3 separate regions of the Homo sapiens genome follow, and all the other regions are linked to region 3. Evidence: fine-mapped expression QTL. A gene starts in region 3. Each other region holds a variant in brackets. All regions are shown on one strand. Distances are between the middles of the regions.

What was found. PIP is the estimated chance that this variant, and not a neighbour inherited with it, causes the effect.
Region 1: its variant is the best candidate, but not a certain one, in a credible set for the expression of SULF2 in testis (GTEx, PIP 0.51).
Region 2: its variant is the best candidate, but not a certain one, in a credible set for the expression of SULF2 in whole blood (INTERVAL, PIP 0.74).

What each region holds. Positions count from the first base shown.
Region 1 is chr20:47,878,964-47,885,863 of GRCh38, reverse strand. No RefSeq gene overlaps it. Among named protein-coding and RNA genes, the nearest start is that of SULF2, 97 kb to the right of the region's middle. The variant G/A (reference allele first, on the strand shown) is at 4,009.
Region 2 is chr20:47,732,710-47,739,609 of GRCh38, reverse strand. It overlaps SULF2 (sulfatase 2), which reads left to right. Exons shown (of 21, transcript NM_001387048.1): 3 at 2,668-2,907. Among named protein-coding and RNA genes, the nearest start is that of SULF2, 49 kb to the left of the region's middle. The variant A/G (reference allele first, on the strand shown) is at 2,995.
Region 3 is chr20:47,781,753-47,788,652 of GRCh38, reverse strand. It overlaps SULF2 (sulfatase 2), which reads left to right and starts at 3,172. Exons shown (of 21, transcript NM_001387048.1): 1 at 3,172-3,310. It overlaps LOC124904920 (a long non-coding RNA gene), which reads right to left and starts at 2,899. Exons shown (of 2, transcript XR_007067618.1): 1 at 2,491-2,899; 2 at 1,768-2,248. It overlaps LOC124904921 (a long non-coding RNA gene), which reads left to right. Exons shown (of 3, transcript XR_007067619.1): 3 at 1,237-1,313. RefSeq lists enhancers at 1,885-2,054, 6,154-6,213.

The DNA of each region.
Region 1 (6,900 bases), 97 kb before region 3:
GAGACAAATGCAGAGACAAACAAAGCCAAGAACACTTGTGGCCGGGAGCAGTGGCTCACACCTGTAATCCCAGCACTTGGGGAGGCTGAGGCGGGCAGATCACCTGAGGTCAGAGTTCAAGACCAGCCTAGTCAACATGGCAAAACCCCATCTCTACTAAAAATACAAAAATTAACCGGCGTGGTGGCGGGCGCCTGCAATCCCAGCTACTTGGGAGGCTGAGGCAGGAGAATTGCTTAAATCCAGAAGGCAGAGGTTGCAGTGAGCCAAGATCATGCCACTCCACTCCAGCCTGGGTGACAGACTCCATCTCAAAAAAAAAACCACTTGTGAGGAGCATGGAGAGATCTCTGGGGAAGCTTCTCTGTCCTCCTCTTCTTTGGCCACACCAACACAACAGAGTGTGGGTGCAATAGAGGGGGCCTGTGGGACTCAGGGTGTCAACCTCACTGTGGAGTGAATGGCTCCAGAGCAGTGGTTCTGCAGTCACCAAAGCCACCAACACAACCTGGGTCTCAGATCAGAAATGAGCCGGGAACAGAAGGTTGGCAAGCAGGACTGCCTTAGAAAATCTGAGGCATTAAGCCCCTGACAATGCAACCTATTGCCCGATTCTTGCCCAAACTCAAAGTCTTGAAAAGAACGTTGTGGAGAAAGGGGCAAAATGAGGAGAGGAAATAAGGATTCTGAGAAACAAGGAAAGGGCAATGCCACATTCCCTCTCAAACCACCTGGAGTGAATACATGGTTCCCAATGCACCTGGAGACAAATGATGGTAAAACACTGTGCTATGGATTGGAGAGCCTTCGAAATGTTCTCTCAAAATGACTCCTTAATACAAATGTAGACACTATTCAGCAATCCCACAGCCCGAATCCACCGCAGATGGTGCCCTCAGCTTCTCTCTTGTTTCTCTGGGAAAAAATAAAACTGATGTAGAGCTGAAATCCTCTGGCCCTTGGAAGCAGACCATCATAGATTCAAATCTAGCTCCGATACTTTCTGGGTGACCTTGGGCAAGTTACTTAACTTCCCTGGACTTCAGTTTACTCATCCACAAAATGCATGTGATGCCGCAAAAGTTGATGTAACAGTAAAGGAAACGGCACAGATATAACATCTTGTGCCCTACCTGGTAGGTTATGAGATGCTTAGGCCAATAACTGAGGAGGTTAGTTCCCTTCTTTCCCTAGCCTTGGCTAGGACAGCACCAAGCACGGTTTCAGTGTACATTAGGAGGTAACACTGTAAAGAGCTCCTGAGGAGGGCATTCAGAGCAATCATCTTGGATGATCTAATTTATCTCTCTTTCATTCCTAATGCTGCCAATTCAGAGACAGCATAAATGGAAGTGTTTTCCAGAAGTACTGAACATTTGGTCACAGGCTCCTGATCTTTGAAATGGACCTAAGAATTAACTATCTCAGCAGAAATGTGCACTCAGCATCGTGGCAGGTCACATTCAGCAGGCACTCACACTCAGCATCATGGCAGGTGCATTCAGCAGGCACTCACACTCAGCATCATGGCAGGCGCATTCAGCAGGCACTCACTATGTGCCACACTAAGCACATGTTAGCTCATTTCATCCTCACACACCTCAGATAGCATCATGGCAGGTCACATTCAGCAGGCACTCACACTCAGATAGCATCATGGCAGGTGCATTCAGCAGGCACTCACACTCAGCATCATGGCAGGTGCATTCAGCAGCCACTCACACTCAGATAGCATCATGGCAGGTCACATTCAGCAGGCACTCACACTCAGATAGCATCATGGCAGGTCACATTCAGCAGGCACTCACACTCAGATAGCATCATGGCAGGTGCATTCAGCAGGCACTCACACTCAGCATCATGGCAGGTCACATTCAGCAGGCACTCACACTCAGCATCATGGCAGGTGCATTCAGCAGGCACTCACTATGTACCACACTAAGCACATGTTCGCTCATTTCATCCTCACACCCACACTTTCAGGTGGGCATTATTATCAGATCCATTTTACATATGAAGAAACTGAGGCACAGCTAAAGTAACTTATACAAGGTTGCAGCGCTGTAAGAGGCAGAGCTGGGACCTGAGCCCATGGGGTCTGACTCCTGAGCCTGTGTATTCCCCGGGGCACTCCATGAAAGCTCCGAGACCCAGCTCTGAAGGGACAACCAAGTGCCCAAGTTTGTCTTCATCCAGCTACACTGAAGTCTCTCCCTTGCATGGCTCTCTAAGACCCTAAAGTGATTTTTTAGTTTTTCAAAAAGTCTAGAGTAGAGCCATTTCACCAGGGCCTGCCCAGATGCTCCAAAGTCTCCCTTCCACCATCTCAGAAATGACAAGGAAGAGTCAGTCATGGCCGAGGAGGATGAGGAGATGCCCAGTGTCAGGGCTCCAGCCGGATGTCTGATCAGGACCTGAATCGTTGTCCCTTCAACACCCTGTCCTCCACAGCCCATGGTGAGGGCTGTGGGAGGGCCAGCTCCATCCTGGAGCCATGGAGGATGGGCACTGGGTCCTCCAGGACAGAGGAGGTAGCGCAGGCTGTGCCCCATGAGCTGCAGGAGAGACAGATGCATGAGTGTGGGGGACACCCTTGGTTTTCCCACCCAGCACCTGCTGCTCCTTCTGGGTCCTGAGTCCCCTTTGGAAAAGCGACCCCTCCCCAGCTCTCCATCCATGGGTGGGGTGGACCCAGCCCTGCTCGCTCAGTCCAGGGCTTAAGCCTTGCTGTGGCAATTGGTTTAGGGAGGAGCTTGTGAAAATCACCCTTCAAATGAAACTTTATCCAAGGGCTGTTGTATGAATGGCAAAGGAGGCTTCCTTTCCCCTGGGATAGGTAAGCTGGGAGAAGGAAGAGGGGCTCCTGGAGGCGTCATCACCACAAGGAGAGAGCCATCCTCCAAATGCACCAACAAGTCTAAGCAAATGAGCCTGGAGAGACGCAGAGACAGGAAGGCCTCCTGATGTCATCTGAGCACCCGGATGCAGCAGTACCTGAAGGCAGCTGGCCTTTTGTGTTAGTTTTCTATTCCTGTGTCAAATTGCCATGCACTTAATGGCTCAAAACAACACCCATTTATTAGTCCATAATTCTGCAGGTGAGAAGTTCGGCCCAGCAGTACTGGGCTCTGCTCAAAGTCTCACAAGGCTGAGAACAAGGTATTGAGTTCTTATTGGCTCTGGGGGTAAAATCTGCTTCCAAGCTAGTTCATGTTGTTGGCACAATTTAATTCCATTTGGTTACAAGACTAAGGCTCCCCCTTCTAGGTATTCTGAAATGTACAATAGTTTATTGTAAAGTGTAGTCACCCTACTGATCTACACAATACTAAATATTTCTTCCATCTGACTTTGGATTCATACTCATTAATCAACTTCTTTTCATGCCCCCACCCCCTACCCTTCCCAGCTTCTGGTAGACACCAATCTACTTTCTATCTTCACGAGATTCACCTTTGTGGCTCCCACATGGGAGTGAGAATATGTGATATTTGTCTTTCTGTGCTTGGCTTATTTCACTTAAAGTGATGGCCTCTAGCTCCATCCATGTTGCTGCAAATGACAGGATGTCATTCTTGTTTATGGCTGAATAATAACCCATTGTGTATAGAACACTTTTTTAAATCCATTCACCCACTGACAGGCGCTTAGGTTGATTCCATATTTTGGCTATTGTGTGTTGTGCTGCAATAAACATGGGGGTGCAGAGAAACAAAACAAAACAAAACAAAACATGAAAAGACTAAGGTTCCAAGATTCCCATCTTCTGGCCAGGAACCACTCTCGGCTCCTAGAGGCCTCCCGAGTCTTTGGCATTTGGGCCCCTCCATTTTTAAGTCAATGGCATTTTGAATCACTCTTGTGATATGAATTCCTAACTTCTGTCTCTGATCTCTAGGCCCAGATTCAAACAGCTAGTGTGATTAGGTCAGGTCCACCTGCTAATCTGCCTTCTGATTACCTCAAAGTCAATTGACTAATAGCCTTAATTAGATCTGCACAATCCCC[G/A]TTGTCATATGATGTCACAGGAGTAGTAGCCTATTCACAAGCTCCACCCACACTCAAGGGGAAGAGGCTTTTCAAGGACAAGGGTCATTGGGAATCATTCTGGAATCTGCCCACCACACCTCTGGACTCTTCAGTGACGTGAGGCCTAACATTCTTTTGTTTGTTTGTTTAAGGTAACTTGAATTGTTCCTCACTTCAAACCAAAAGAGTAGGCTGGGTGTGGTGGTTCATGCCTGTAATCCCAGTACTTTGGGAGGCCGAGGTAGGCAGATCACTTGATACCAGGAGTTCAAGACCAACCTGGACAACATGGTGAAACCCCATCTCTACTAAAAGTGCAAAAATTAGCACGGTGTAGTGGCATATGCCTGTGATCCCAGCTACTCAGGAGGCTGAGGCATGAGAATCGCTTGAACCCAGGAGGTGGAGGTTGGAGCAAGCTGAGATTATGCTACTGTACTCCAGACTGGGTGACAGAGCAAGACCCTGTCTCAAAAACACATAATAAAACAAACAAACAAAAATGACAGTTATCCATGCAATGGAATATTATTCAGGCATAAAAAGGAATGAAATGCTGATTCATGCTACAATGTGAATGAACCTTGAGAACATTATAGCAAGTGAAAAAAGCCAGACACAAAAGATCACATCGTATATGGTCCCATTTATGAAATGTCCATAACAGCCAAGTCCATAGAGACAGAAAATAAATTAGTAATTCCCTAGGACAGTTGGAGAATGACTGCTAATGGGTACAAGGTTTCTTTTTGGCAATAATAATGTTCTGGGATTTGATATTGAAGGTTGCACAACCTTGCAAATACTAAAAAACACTGAATTTTATACTGTTAAAGTGTGAATTGTATGTGGATTTCGATTTATATCTCAAAAATCAAAGTGAAATGAAGAAACAAAGTGTGTCAGGCTAAAAGGAGAGCAAGAAAATCACAGATGTGGTCTGACTGGGTGAAGCCAGGCTGCATGGCCTCTCTCTGTGAAGACGGAGCCTTGCCTCTGAAGTCATCCCCATCACACTTTTCACGTCATCCCATTCACTGGGGAGGCAGAGGTAAGGAAAATAATCAAATTATTTTTTAAATTTCTCACATTATTGCGGGTTAGCCTGACACACTGCTTATGAAAGCTCTTGCTCAAAACCACCTAATATTTGATAGGCTTGTAAAAGAGAAATTCTCCTGGAATTCATTCCACAAAAGTAAAATGAACGGCTATGATGAGTATTACAAATCAGTCTTAGTGCAAAGGGAAACAGACTTTGGCTGCAAGAACCAGAGTCATCTTTCCCCCTTGAGCAGTTTCCGAAGAGGCCATTCATTAAAAAGTAGTTTGGGCCAGGCGCGGTGGCTCATGCCTGTAATCCCAGCACTTTGGGAGGCCAAGGCAGGTGGATCACAAGGTCAGGAGATTGAGACCACTCTGGCTAACACAGTGAAACCCCGTCTCTACTAAAAATACAAAAAATTAGCCAGGCGTGGTGGTGGGCACCTGTAGTCCCAGCTACTCGGGAGGCTGAGGCAGGAGAATGGTGTGAACCCAGGAGGCGGAGCTTGCAGTGAGCGAAGATCGTGACACTGCACTCCAGCCTGGGCAACAGAGTGAGACTCCATCTCAAAAAAAAAAAAAAAGAAAAGAAAAGAAAAAGAAAAAAAAATAAGTATATTTTCCACTAGAGAAAAACTGTCAAGCAAATGAGATGCAAACTCTCCGGGCTGTGTATCAGACCCATGCAGCGTGTCACCTCTGGTTTCCCCAGCTTCCACTGCAGGAACTGACTCAGCGCAGGTCCACAGGACACCACTGTGTTCCGACTACCTCCCGTTCACCCCATCGGTGAGGGATGCATCCTCGCCCTAAATAGTATGAGATGGCCGAGCACACAACACCCAGCGCTGCACACATGAGACGGGCAGTGGGTCGGCCACAAATACAGCCCGCAGGGGAGGATAACACGCGCCCTGCAGAGCCACAGGGTGTGCACCTGGGAACAGAGAGAACAGGAGGGGCTGTGGGAGGCAGACCTTGAAGTAACAACGGGGTGAGGTACCCCTGGTTCCTGTGGGCAGAGAGGTGAAGCCAGTTAAGCTGAGGACCAGGTGGAGCGTGGCTGCTCCAGTTGACAGGTAAACCTACCAGGTGGGAGTCTTTCCCACTGAGCTGGGAGCATATTGGTGAGGGAAGGGAACTAGTAGTTTGGCCTCTGCAGCCCTGTGAAGCTCAAAGACATCAAGGCCGTACTTAATATTACACTTCAGTTTCAGGCCTTACACCACACACGGCCTGAGACCGACGCCCCAAGATTCTGGATCCTCCACCAATTCTGGATTCAGCTAAGTTGCCACAAAAATGAGCGTGGGATCTGGATTCCCCAGCAGCTGCCAAGGGACTGGGTGATGCACCCTGGTGTTAAGAAAGAGAAGACTCGGCCAGGTGTGGTGGCTCATGCCTGTAATCCCAGCACTCTGGGAGGCCGAGGCAAGTGGATCACTTGAAGTCAGGAGTTCAAGACCAGCCTGGCCCAACATGGTGAAACCCCGTCTCTACTAAAAATACAAAAATTAGTCAGGCATGGTGGTAGGCACCTGTAATCCCAGCTACTCGGGAGTCTGAGGCAGGAGAATCATTTGAACCCTGGAGGTGGAGGTTGCAGTGAGCTGAGATCATGCCACTGCACTCCAGCCTGGATGACAGAGCAAGACTCAGTCTCAACAAGAAAAAAAAGAAAAGAAAAGAAAAGAAAGAGACGACTCCCTGAAGAGCAAACCTGCACCCTCAAGGGAGAGGAAAAAAGAGAGATTAGCTATAAATGGCCCCTCCCAACCATCCCCATATGGGCCATCCTGTGGGGAGCGTTTCTGCACAGCTTGTCTG
Region 2 (6,900 bases), 49 kb after region 3:
TGGAGAGTGCTATGGGTTGCGGGAGGTGGTTTCAATACAGGCCAGGGAAGGCCTCTCCAAGAAGGTGGTGTCTGATCAATAACTTGAAGGAGACAGAGGTAGCCCTGTGATTGGAGGAGTGAGAGCATCCCAGGCTGGGGGTACGGCTGAGGCAGGGGCCAGGAGGTGGGAGGGCGGCCAATGTGCAATACTGGGACCTCAGGGGCACGACCTTGGTGCCTTGATTGGTGGTAAAAATTTAAAGTAGAAGCAGCTGATTGCTGAGCAGAGGGCCTTCCCCAGATCCCAGGAGGCTGCAGTGGGTCTGATGCTTGTTTTCAGGTTTCTAGGGGGTTGCTAGGTGATTGGGATCACAGCCTTCACATGCCTGGTAGACCCTGTTTTGGTTTCCCACTGCTGTCCTAACAGATCACAAACTGGGTGGCTTAAAACAACAGAAATTTACTCTCTCAACAGTTCTGGAGGCCGGAAGTCCAAAATCAAGGTGTTAGCATGGCTGTGCTTCCTCAGAAGGCTCTAGGGGAGAGCCCTTCCTTGCCTCTTCCAGCCCTGGGGACCCTAGGAGTTCCTTGTTCCTTGGCTTGTATGTGCATCCCTCCAGTCTCTGCTTCCCTTTGAATGTGGCCTTCCCCTCTGTGCCTGTGCGTCTTCTCCACTTTGTGTCCTATGTGGACACTTGTCACTGGATTTAGGGCCCACCTGGGGAATCCAGAACAAATCTCATTTCAGTAGCCTCAATTTAATTACATCTGCAAAGACACCCTGTATTGGTCTGTCTTCATGCTGCTGATAAAGATATACCCGAGACTGGGTAATTTAGAAAGAAAAAGAGGTTTAATGGACTTAGTTCCATGTGGCTGGGGAGGCCTCAGGATCATGGCAGAAGGTGAAAGGCACATCTTACATGGCGGTAGGCAAGAGAGAATGAGAACCAAGCAAGAGGGAAAACCTTTATAAAACCATCAAATCTCGTGAGACTTATTCACTACCAAGAGAACAGTATGGGGGAAACAACCCCCATGATTCAACTGTCTCCCATCAGATCCCTCTCACAACACGTGGGAAATATGGGAGCCACAATTCAAGATGAGATTTGGGTGGGGACACAGCCAAACCATATCACCCTCTTTCCAAATATGGTCACATTCACAGCTTCCAGAAATTAGGACATGGTCTTATCTTTAGGGGACGGGGGCACCGTTCAACCCACTGCACACCTTAAGAACTGCAAGGAAAAGGGGAAAAACCAAGGATGGCCATAGAAGAAGGAGAGAGGGTTTCCATGGAATATTTCCATCAAATCACTAAGGGTCTGGGTACCAACCACAGCATACAATTGAGCATGCACTCGTCACACCTATGTTGAGTACCCACTGTGTGTCACACACGGCAGCAGTGCTGAGGATTCAGCGCTGAGCGGAGCACACAGCCTTTGCCCTCCTGGGACCTTGGCCTGCACGCAGTAGGGCTCCCACACACGTTCATTTGCTTCCTTCCTTCCTTCTTGCCTTTCTTCCTAAGTGTCTTGCTCTGCTTACAGCTTGGTTGAGAAACAAGAGCAGGCATGGCCAGGCAAGGTGGTTCATGACTGTAATGACAGCACTTTGGGAGGCAGAGGCAGGCGGATCACTTGAGGTCAGAAATTCCAGACCAGCCTGGCCAACATGGCGAAACGTCATCTCTACTAAAAATACAGAAACTAGCTGCGTATAGGGGCTACTTGGGAGGCTGAGGCAGGGGAATCGCTTGAACCCGGGAAGCAGAGATTGCAGTGAGTCAAGATCACACCACTGCACTCCAGCCTGGGCAACAGAGCAAGACTCTGTCTCAAAAAAAAAAAAAAAAAAAAAAAAACAAAGAAAAGAAAGAAACAAGAGCAGGCATGACCGAAACCTCGAAGCCTGGGGTATGATCAGTACTCAGGACACATGCTGCAAGACTGCTCAGAGCTCTCAAGCCCAGGGTGGTGCCAGAGGCTCCCTACGAGAGGGTACTAGGCCGATGGGTTGGATTTGGGGTGAGGGGTGGTGGGTTCCAGGCTCGAAGAAAAGTGTGGACAAGAGGCCAGCAGGGTTTGTGGCTGATGGCAGAGCACCTCAGCCAGGGAATACTCAGGGAGAAGGTTTGCCACCAGGTTGGCATGACCAGATTTCAGTAAGAGCAAACAATTATTGGGAAAGTTCCAAAGAAAAGAAAGTATAATCTTCCCTCAATTTACATGGTGGTTGGTTTCCAAAAGAAAAAACAAAACAATGTATATTAATACCCTGCAAAAACAATGTTGTGTTTAAAATTTGTAAAACAGTTTGATTCCAGTCTCAGGTCATTTATAAACAGGTTTTTACCTGCCTTGCAGGTAGAGATGCAATTACAGTACCGGACAGTGACAGTACAGTCACTTACAGTCACTCACCTCCAGCACCATTGCAAAATCCTCCAGACTCCAGACCTGGACCTCAGGAGTGTCCAGGTGGACTCGGGACCCAGGGTCCTTCCTGATTATGCAGGACAGTCCCACCGTGCAGCAGTGGCCCCTGCCCCGTCTGCCCCGTAGGTCTGCAGAATGTGCCCACTCCAGACCTAGGGATGCCACGTGCTGAGAGCCCCCTGGTGCCGGTGCCGCCCGGGTCTCCTGCCCTGCGCCTTACTTCCACCCTTGACTTGCAGGTTCCATGCAGGTGATGAACAAGACCCGGCGCATCATGGAGCAGGGCGGGGCGCACTTCATCAACGCCTTCGTGACCACACCCATGTGCTGCCCCTCACGCTCCTCCATCCTCACTGGCAAGTACGTCCACAACCACAACACCTACACCAACAATGAGAACTGCTCCTCGCCCTCCTGGCAGGCACAGCACGAGAGCCGCACCTTTGCCGTGTACCTCAATAGCACTGGCTACCGGACAGGTGAGCAGGGACGGGGGCAGGTGCAGGAAGGGAGTGACAGCCAGGGCGGGCGTCCCTAGGTGTGGTCTGCACACCACTGCGGTACCC[A/G]AGTTGATTCTGGATAGCCCCTAGAGCAACTCTCTTATAATTTCAGAGTTGTGCATTTATTTCTGTGTGTATTAAAGAAATACAGATTTATTTGCCTACAGTAGTGATGTAAAGTGACCTTGTCAAAGGAATTTGAGTCCCCCAAAAAAGTGAGTCTTTTCAAACTATGAATCATAGTGTGGAGAGGCCATAAGGTGCCCATGCATGAGTTTGCATCCTCTGTTAATAGTTATTAAGCCCATCAGGGACTGTTTCGTTGACTTCAAACCATTAGCTTGGAAGAAGGTTCCAAAACATAGGGGTGGGGGATGGGAATTCATGGAGGGGAACAGATAATGGGGCTGTGTGGTCGCTTTCTACGTGGCAGTAACCAAGGTGGTGCAGAAACTGACATGGTGGTTGACTGTCCACACTCACCCGTGTCATCCTGGGTGGAGGGCGACCCAGTTCCTGTTTGCTTATCCTTCAGGAGGTCTTTGGTGGGCTCTGAAGGCTCACCTGCCAGGCTGGTTGTCTGAGGTAGAGATGCAATTACAGTATAGTCACTTACCTGTAGCGCCATTGCAAAACCCTCCAGACTCAATTCATTTAACTTGCTTTAATTAAAAATAAATAAATACTCCCCGCCTTGGGTAAGAAGCCGCGGCGGTTGTGAAATCAAGATATTGTGGCTCAGATGTTGCAACCCCAGGAAGTTGCATCCAAGTGACAAGGGGTTTGTTTGGGTGGGAGTGCCGCAAGGGAAGGATGGACTCCTCCTCCAGCCCTGTCCGCAGTGCTGGACCTGCAGCCCTCGAGGCTGGGCAGCTTCCTCTCAGATACACAGTGTGGGCTGGCAGGGATGCTTTGGTGTGGGGAGCAAGCCAGTAAGGTGTGTCTTCTTACAGCCTCATCCCATAGCCAGAATCACCTAGAAAGTATGTTCTGCTGAGAACTAGGAAGGCCTCGTTCCTATACCTTGTTCCTGTGTATTGTGCGTGCCATTATGCAGAATCAACCACCTGTTGGTTCCCCTGAGCCTCTGCAGAAAGCCACATGTGTCAGAAGTTACCATGGCCACCACCCTAGATGATTGGCGGGGGCCTGGATGTTGCTAGCAGAAGCAGGACAGGCAGGCCCGCAGCACAGCAGTGGGCCCTTATTGAAGATGCACCTGCAACTTGGCTCTAGAAAGTACAGCCATGCACTCAAGAGTGACCAGCCTTGAAATGTTTTAAAGTCTGAATATTTCACTGAAAATCTTATTTTAAAATATGCCGGCACAGCTTATTTTTTCTTTAATGTATACTGGGGGCCAAAGAAAATATGTCTGAGGAGTGAGTGTGTGGCTCACAGACTCTCTTTTCACAACCTCTGGGTGAAAGGTCTGTACAGAAACCTTTCGTTTTGGATGCTGGAAGATCAGTAAAGACCCTAGACCTGTTCTCATCAATCCCCCTCATTTCACAGCCAGGGCCACTGCAGCCCAAAAAAGAGACCTGCCCAGAGTCAAAGTGAGGTGTTTGTGGCATAATCAAAATGGAATGCAAGATCATGGGAATTCAGAGGGGGCATGGAAATAGTATTCATCAGACTGAAAGGAAACTCATATATTCTGTGCCATTTTGAGGGCTCAGGGTGGGAGCTAAAGGCTAGTGTTTCAAAATCTTACAGGCGACATGAGAAAATCAATCATTTCAAGAATAAACATTCTCTAAAGTGGATTTCCCAAACTTGTCCTTGAATGTATGCAAATCACCAAAAAGCTGTCTCCCTAAATAAGTGCTTTTATTCAACTATGATTCATTATTATACCCTCATGAAGACTGGGAGCGTAATGTCAAGTGTAAAGAGCCAGATACCGAGAACATTTACGTTTTTGTAAAACTGCCACTGAGAATTTTATTCATTATATTTAGAATGCCACTCTGTACAAAGAATCCCATTCCAGCCTTACTTTCAGAACTCAGGACCCTGAAAACACCTGTTTAGTCTGATGAACTGGTGTACTCCTTGTTATTACATAATAAGAGCCACATACCCTGTATAGTTTCCCTCTTTGCCCTGGCAGCTAGGAAGCTCAGGTTTGAGTTTTATATTGAGTTGTTGTTTAAAGTGGAAATGTTTTTAAAGATCCAACTGCGTGATATGTTATACTGATCAGTGTTGACTAAGAAAAATGACAAAAATCTATAATGAATTCAAAACCTTTTAGATTATTTTTTCCTTTTAGATTGATTTGTACATACATATTAGAATATACTGTAAATTTTTAATCCCCCAAGGACCAAAAGTAAATTGTTCCTGCTGAGTCTTCAGCCATGTTAAACCCTGTGTTCACGTGGCCACCTAGCAAAGTTGGTTCAGTTGGATTTAAGTTTGGCTGTGTGTGTGAGAGAGACCGGGGATGTCAAATAAAATTCCAAGTTGTTCTGGTGGCCCTGCTCTATGAAGTGGTCAGAGACTCCGACTCCATTTCTCCTTATTTCCCATTGGTGAGAAACAAGTCATATGGCCATGCATGGCAGCAAAGGGGCCTGGGAAATGTAGTCTTATTCTAGGTGGACATTTGCCCAGATGAAAGTTATTTTACTGTGGGAGAAGAAGAAAACGGATACTGAAGGACAAGTGAAGTCTAGGCCACCCTAACAGTTATTAGCCATTTGTGTTTGTGATACTCGTTTGAATAGAGGAGATCAGCCCAAACTGAGGAAGACTGACCCCAGAAAAATGCTACTTAAGTGGACCAACATTTCATAATAAATAGTGCTTTTAATGTATTTAGTAAGGTATTTGATCTTGAAATGAAACTACAATGTTTCGAGAATAACTCTGTTATGTTACATCTCTTTTTTTCTTTTTCTGAGACAGAGTCTTGCTCTGTCACCCAGACTGGAGTGCAGTGGCACAGTCTCAGCTCACTACAACCTCTGCCTCCTGGGTTCAAGCGATTCTCCTGTCTCAGCCTCCTGAATAGCTGAGATTACAGACGCCTGCCACTACGCCTGACTAATTTTTGTATTTTTTGTAGAGATGGGGTTTTGCCATGTTGGCCAAGCTGGTCTCAAACTCCTGGCCTCAAGTGATCCACCTGCCTTGGCCTTCCAAAGTGCTGGGATTACATGCATGAGCCAACGCACCCGGCCCTCTGTTAGGTTGCATCTAATGATATTTAACAAATATTGGGCTCTAGTTGCAACTAATGAGTTGATTCTTCAAGCAAGTGAATTGACGAAGTGTAGGGAGGAATATAATGTGTTTCACAAATTGAAATGGATGGCACAAGATGATATCCTTTACTTCACTAGGGACATTTTTGCAAAAGTATTTGAGGATTTGATCAATTTTTTCAAGGGCCTCTCCTAATTCTCTGACATCTGAATCTTCCCCTGTGAAGTGCATCTCATACTTCATCATCCTTCTCAATAGTCTCTTCTCCTTCATGTAGTATCTTTATAGACCAGGTAATTATTCGTCAGTGGATTTGCATGTGTTTTTTGAGCTATCTTCCAGCGTCATTTTAATTAATTTTACAAACCCTGCATCTTTTAAAATATTTGCAATTTCATTTTGCAGTGATCTTGCTTTGCATGGCCCCATGTTTGCAGTGGAGATTGACAAAAGACAAAATGAGAGAAGCTAAGTTTAAGCAGGATAAATATCAATTTGTTCATGAATATTTCTCTGTATGGCTTCTTACAACTTGAGGGACTTGGATCTCAGATATGAATACCCTTGGAAGGATCAATTGCATCCTCAGGTTTTTTGTTTTCTTTGTTTTTTTGTTTGTTTTTGAGACAGGGTCTCACTCTGTTGCCCACGCTGGAGTGCAGTGGCGTAATCTCAGCTCACTGCAACCTCCACCTCCCGGGTTCAAGCGATTCTCCTGCCTCAGCCTCCCCACTAACTAGGATTACAGGTGCGTGC
Region 3 (6,900 bases):
ATGCACACACAAGATCTGTCCCCGTCTACTTAAGGAAGGATAAGGGGCCAACATAGACGTTACCATGTTTGGTAATGTCCAGCAACAATGGAAACAACATATCCAAAAAGATAAGCAAATGCCACGTGTCCGCCAGGCCCACAGCCCCAGAAGAAGGGATTGTAAGCATCCCCTCTCTGACTGGGGTTACCTGACGAGCAGAGAAGGATGGAGTGAAACATTGTGGGCAGGATCCTTATGGGTATGGGAGAGCCATGTTCAGGAACTCGAGGACCTAAGGGCACAGTGTGGTAATGCAGTGGGGTTTTTTTTAGACTTTTTTTGCCGTGGAAATTTCCCCACCCCTGAAATATTCTCCAGAACCCAACATAAAAAGTAGGAGGGAGGCAGATCCCATTCCTGGGCCTCCCTCCACCACCCCAGGCCCCAGAAGCACCACCAAGGGGCCCTGAGGATTCAGTAAGAAAATTGCTTCTGCAGTGGGGTACATGTCCCCAAACCAGGGACAGCATCAAAAGGGTTGAAATCCCACTGGCCAAGTTTTTGACTATAGGCAAGACCCTTTATCTCTCTGAGCATCAGTTTGCTTGAAAGATTGTCAGGAGGATTACATGAAATGACCCGGTGGAAACAGCCATTGACCGCAGAACCTGCCAGAGTTGCACTGTCCAGCATGGGACCCCTGAGCCACATGTGGCTGGTCCCAATTGAGATGTGCTGTAAGTTTAGAATGTACACCAGATTACAAAACTTAGTAAGAAAAAATAATGTAAAAATATCTCATTAATTTTATATTGATTACATGTTGAAGAGATCGATTTTGGATATACTAGGTTAAGTAAACTATATTATTAATATTAAAATTAATTTCACCTGCTTTTTTCAGACAGGGTCTGACTGTCACCCAGGCTGGAGTACAGTGGAACAATCATGGCTCACTGCAGCCTTCACCTCCCAGGCTCAAAGTGATCCTCCCACATGAGCCTCCCGAGTAGCTGGGACCACAGGCACATGCCACTATGCCCAGCCTAATTTTTGTATTTCTTGTAAAGATGGAGTTTCACCATGTTGCCCATGCTGGTCTGGAACTCCTGAACTCAAGTGATCCGCCCACCTCGGCCTTCCATACTGCTGGGATTACAGGCGTGAGCCACTGTGCCCGGCCCTCACCTGTTTCTTTTTACTTTCTAATGCCACTACTAGAAAATTCTAAATGATATATATGTCCTTCTGCAGAGATGAGGCGGAAGGAGAGGGGTCTCCATTATTTTTCGGTCTATGATGGTGAAGCCTGACATTCTGTCCCAGGGCAAAGAAGGTGGGAGCTGTTCAGCCTTATCAGTGATGCCAAAGGTAGGGCCAGCACCTGACTTGGAAAAGCAAGTGCAAGGTTTTTCTGATTTATTTAGGCTCTAACTTGATTGGCGTGGCTAACAGAGGTTATGGGGAGGAGCCTAGAGCTCCAAACCCAGTCAGGAGATCCGATTTGAATTTCAGATTTAAAAATGAATGATTTTTTAGTACTAACTTCCTCCCCGTGGATGTCTATATTTATTTGTTAAGTCTGACAACTCTACCATGGAGGATCATATCAGAGAAAGGAGATGCTAGGTTGAAAAGTAAAAACATCCTAGGATTTAAGAGCATGAGCCGGGAGCTAAGGCTTCTTGGCTTCACAGGATCCACCACTTATAACTGTGTGATCTTCGGACAGTTACTAAACCTCTCTTGGTTTCCATGGTAAAACGGGCATAGTAACTTACTGTGTGAGATTGTCACAAGATTTAATAAGTTACTGCTGTTTACAAGTGCTTTCCCACAGCGGCGTCTGTTTCCCCTTAGCTAGCAACTCGGCTGTGTTTTCTGCAGCTGCTGGTGAGTTCTCTGCCCGCTCTTTGCCCACCCGCGTCAGGCCGGTCCCCCTCCGGCCTCTTCTGTGGCGCGAGGGACAGCGGAAACCACGGTAGACAGCACCCCCTTGAGTCCAATTCCTCCCCTTTCGGAGGAAGCCGGTTTCTCCTTTCTATGCTACTCCCGGGCCATTTCTGGACAACAGCTGCTATTTTCACTTGAGCCGAAGTTAATTTCTCGGGGAGTTCTCGGGCGCGCACAGGCAGCTCGGTTTGCCCTGCGATTGAGCTGCGGGTCGCGGCCGGCGCCGGCCTCTCCAATGGCAAATGTGTGTGGCTGGAGGCGAGCGCGAGGCTTTCGGCAAAGGCAGTCGAGTGTTTGCAGACCGGGGCGAGTCCTGTGAAAGCAGATAAAAGAAAACATTTATTAACGTGTCATTACGAGGGGAGCGCCCGGCCGGGGCTGTCGCACTCCCCGCGGAACATTTGGCTCCCTCCAGCTCCGAGAGAGGAGAAGAAGAAAGCGGAAAAGAGGCAGATTCACGTCGTTTCCAGCCAAGTGGACCTGATCGATGGCCCTCCTGAATTTATCACGATATTTGATTTATTAGCGATGCCCCCTGGTTTGTGTGTTACGCACACACACGTGCACACAAGGCTCTGGCTCGCTTCCCTCCCTCGTTTCCAGCTCCTGGGCGAATCCCACATCTGTTTCAACTCTCCGCCGAGGGCGAGCAGGAGCGAGAGTGTGTCGAGTGAGTGTGCGTCTGTGTGTCCCGGCGAGGGTGCGCGCTCGGCGCCGGGAGCGCGGCCAGCCGAGTCCGGAGGCATCGGGAGGTCGAGAGCCGCCGGGACCCCAGCTCTGCGTTCACTGCCCCGTCCGGAGCTGGACTTCGGGGCCGGGGCCGGGGCCGTGCGCCGGGGACAGGCAGGGCCGGGTCGCGGGCCGCGCGTCCCCCAGGCCGGAGGTAAAAGCGCTAGCGCGCGGAGGGCTCGAGGAGGGCACCGCGGCTGGGCCCCCCGCGCCCCGGGCCCCAGCCGTCCGCGGCTCCCGGCCCGACGCTCCCCGCCCCGGAGCGCGCCCGCCTCCCCTGCGTGGAGGCCGGCGGGCAGGCGAGCGGGGGGCGGTAGCGCCGTGCCAAGGGGCTGGCTGGGGCAGCGTGGCCGGCCGGGCTGGGGCGATTTAAGAGCGGTCCGGGCGGGGTGCGGAGCCGGACTTTGGCTGGGGCGGCGCGCGGGGAGGGGGCCGGGGGCGGTGGCGGCGGCGTTGGGGGGCGGGGAGGAGGCAGGAGGAGGAGCAGCAGCGCTCGCCGGGGGATGCAGCAGCGGCAGCGGCGGCGGCGGCGGCGGCAGCGGCAGCGGCGGCGCGGAGTCCCCTGCGCCCAGCGGCCCGGCCGGGCTGCGGCAGAGGCGGCGGCGGCGCCCCGCTCCGGGTGAGGTTGCCGGGGCCGTGCGCGCTGGTGAGTGGGGCGTGGGGGGCAGGTGGGTGGCTGGGGGACGCGGGGCTCGGGCGGGGGCTCGCGGCGGCCGGAGCCTTCCCCGGCGTGAGCCCGGCCGCGAGCGCCGCCCAGGTGAGCCGGGGCTGGTCCGGACCGCCCGGCTCCAGCCCCAGCGCTGCTTGCGGAGGTGGGTCCGGGCGGGCGGGAGGGAGGCTCCGGCGCCGGCCGTCCGCAGAGGGATGACCTGTTTGACCCCGCTGGCTGGCGGGCGGGCGAGGACTTCCCGCCGCGCCCCTGACCCGCGGACACGGCACACCGAGCACAGGCGGCCCCGGGTAGGGGAGCGCGCCTGGGCCGGCCATCCGCAGGGGCATGGCCTTGTTGACCCTTAGGGTTTAGACCCAAGGGACCGGTAGATGCCAGCCCACGTGGGGCTTGTCCGGGCAGGACTCGGGGAAGCAGTGGGCCGGATCTTCAGAGTGGTTGGAAACTCGCAGACACCGAAAGGACAAACAGGATCGAAAAGGCAGACTTCCTCCCAGGCCAGGGCAGAACGAGTTTCCATCGCCTGGCGGAGGGATGCTCCCCTCCCCGGCTCCTCGGGGTTTCAGAAGTCTAGCGGTGAATTCTAGGAGTGCACTTTTCCAAACATTCCTTATAGTAGTTCGTTCATTCGTTCTACAAGCATTTCTGGAGCACCCCCTCGTGCCGGGCACCGCGTTCTGTTCCAGGGAAACGCGGCTGAACAGGATCTGGCTCCTGCGCGCCAGAAGCTGCCGGTTCACTGGGAGGGCAGCAGGGTAGAGAGATGCCGTCTCGGGGTGGAAGATGGAAAGGGAAGCCTGCAATCCTAGTTTGCACACTGGCCTCGGTCCGCAACTCCCCCACCTGCACGCAGTAGGCCCAGCACACAGTAGGAAGAGCAAGCCAGACCTGCCTGTGACGACCCTCTCCTCCTCCTCCTCCCCCTTGAAAGCTTTGATTCATTCCCTGCCCCCCTTTCTGGAAAGTCTTCCTGCAGCTTGTTTTAATCACTTTTTGAGTTAAAAGTCAATATTTAATTAACCAAGTAATTACATTCAGCTTACGTTTCAATCTGGGTATTTGCTCATCTGTGCGTGTTGGGACACCCGCCCTCTCGCCCCTCCATCTGTCCCCTGCCTGTTTCCCACCGGGTCCACCCCCACTTTTGGGGCAGAGAAGGGGAGGCTGCGCTGGAGCAGGTTCTCAGGGGGAGACAGGGAGCAGGAGAGACGGGCTTTCTCTGGAGGACACCCCCGGATCTGCGCGCTCTCCAAATTTCAGCTTGTAGTGAATAGTGAAGGTGATTTCTTGACAGCCTCTGCCTCCCATTACAGAACCACCAGAGGGTTCTAATTAAATTAGAGCCAATCGTTAAGTATAGGAACGGGGTAGGGAGGACAGAACGAAGGGGGCCCCTTCCCTGTAAGAGATGTTCTCCCCAGCTTCGTCTCTCCCACATCATAGAGAAGAGAAAACTCATCCAGACAGCCTGTCGGATGTGTAATTTAGCGTTCTAATAAGCAGCTTGAAAGGCGAAGGTGGTGGGCTTGGCAGATGGCATGTTGGACCTTTGTACATGAAGGCCTCTTCCTTCCCCAGCTAAATTTATATACATAAAGGCCGTGATGTTGGCATCACTGCTGCAGCTGAGGGTCAATGTGGGTTTGGGGTTTGGGCTTTGTGTGTACTTCTTGGGTTTTTTATTTGAATTTATGGCTTTTTCTGAAACCCTAATAACATGTTAAATTTTCAAACTTGAGAGTAGAGTGATGAGTTGACTGTAAAAGTCTGGTCTTGGAGGAGGACAGCATAGCAGTGTGTGTGCATGCACGTGCATGTCCCCCAGTTCAGCTGCTGTCCAAAGAACCCAGTTGATATGCAGTTTCACACCTGATTTGGACCTGATTTGGGAGATAACATTTCCTTCTCACTTTTTCTGGCACTGGTTAGTTTATCTGCTTGGACCTGCCTCAAGAGGGCAGCTGGGTTAACCAGGCAGAATATCACCCAACTCTGTCAAGCTTTGGCCATTATCTGACCTTAGACTTTAGTCCTGCAGAAGGAGTCCAGAAGCCCTGTCCTACAGAAAAATATCAGCATTTCTGACCAGCTTGTAGTTAAAAGAAAAGGTTTAGTCCAGACTTAAGATAATTGGTAACACTTAAGTAGTTTTGTATGGGCCTGATCTGAGGCATTGATCTAAGCCCTTATACCTTACTCATTAAATCCACACAAATACCCTGTTAAGTAAGTACTGCCATTGTTGCCATATTAAAGATGAGGAAACAGGCACAGAGAGGATTGTGACTTGCCTACAGCTGGTCACAGGTAGAGCTGGGATTCAAGAGGCCCTCAAGCTCCGGGGTCCACTTGGAACCACTGGACTCTCCTCCATGACCTTGGCCTTTGTCCCAGATGTAGAAGAAACACATATGCAGGGGAAGAAAACACCTTCAGACAGTCAAACTTTGCAAAGTAAAAGGCCCTTAACTTTCCATAAACCCCCACTGTTCCGACAGAGAGTCCGGGTTTGTATTTGAGGTTTTTTGCCCCAAGGAAAACATGTGTCTGCCTGGTGCTTTTTCTTCTGCTTATGAGCAGACACACTGTCCCCTCCCCCAGTCAAAATGCAAAGGGAAACATCAAATGCAGCTGATGGAAAAGCCAGGTGAACCATGGTGAAGATTTCAGCCCACTCAGAGCACAGTGGCCAGAGAGCAAAAGCTCTCCTAGAGGTGAGACCTTCCTGTGGTTGGTGATGGAGTCTCGATGGCCTGGCCCTGGGGGTGGTGCCAGGGTGCTCTGTGTCAGGCCTGGGCGGATGTGGAAGATGGGGGCCTCTCTCAATGCTGATCTGCAGGTGAGGGGGCCCTCCCTGAAACCTGCTTTCTCTGGGCCTCCTTGGAATGGGCCTTGGTGGAGATCTACAGACAGCCCTGGCCCAGCCGGATTGAAGGCACTGTCTAATTGGGAGGGCATTAAGATCGTTATAATTAATTGGCATCCCGATAAATGGCATGGTTGCCTAATTGGGGTGGTTGCTAGGGAACGAGGCCTCACTTGGAGCCTAAAGGGGAAGAAGCGCTGGGCTGGCCACAGTTGGGTGTCAGGGTACAGATCCAGCAGTGAATGGACCGGAAGGGAGAGCAGTCCATCCGTATCTGCTGGTGTTTACTGAGCAGCTGCTGTGTGCAAGTTGCAAATGGAGTATCAGTTAGGGGTACTTGCCTAGAAGAACTGTAAAGTAATCAGGTTCCTTTCTCTTGCAAGCAACGGAAAAAGAGAAGAAAAAAACTCAAGCCAGCTTAAGGAGAAAAGAAGTGGACTTACTGGTTTTCATAACCAAAAGTCTTAAGGTGACTAACTCTAGCTTCAGACACAGCTGGACCCACAGCTCAGATTTTGTAATGAGAATCCATTCCTATCCACCGCTCCTCTGCCTTCCATGAGGCTGATGTCTCTCCAGCTCTGGGGCGGGCAGTCCCTGGCAGCTGTGGGCACCGTGGCTAGGAGAGCCAGACTGCCTGGCTCCCTGCCCAGCAGTGGGATCTGGGGCATGCTACTTAACCTTTCTGTGCCTTGATGTT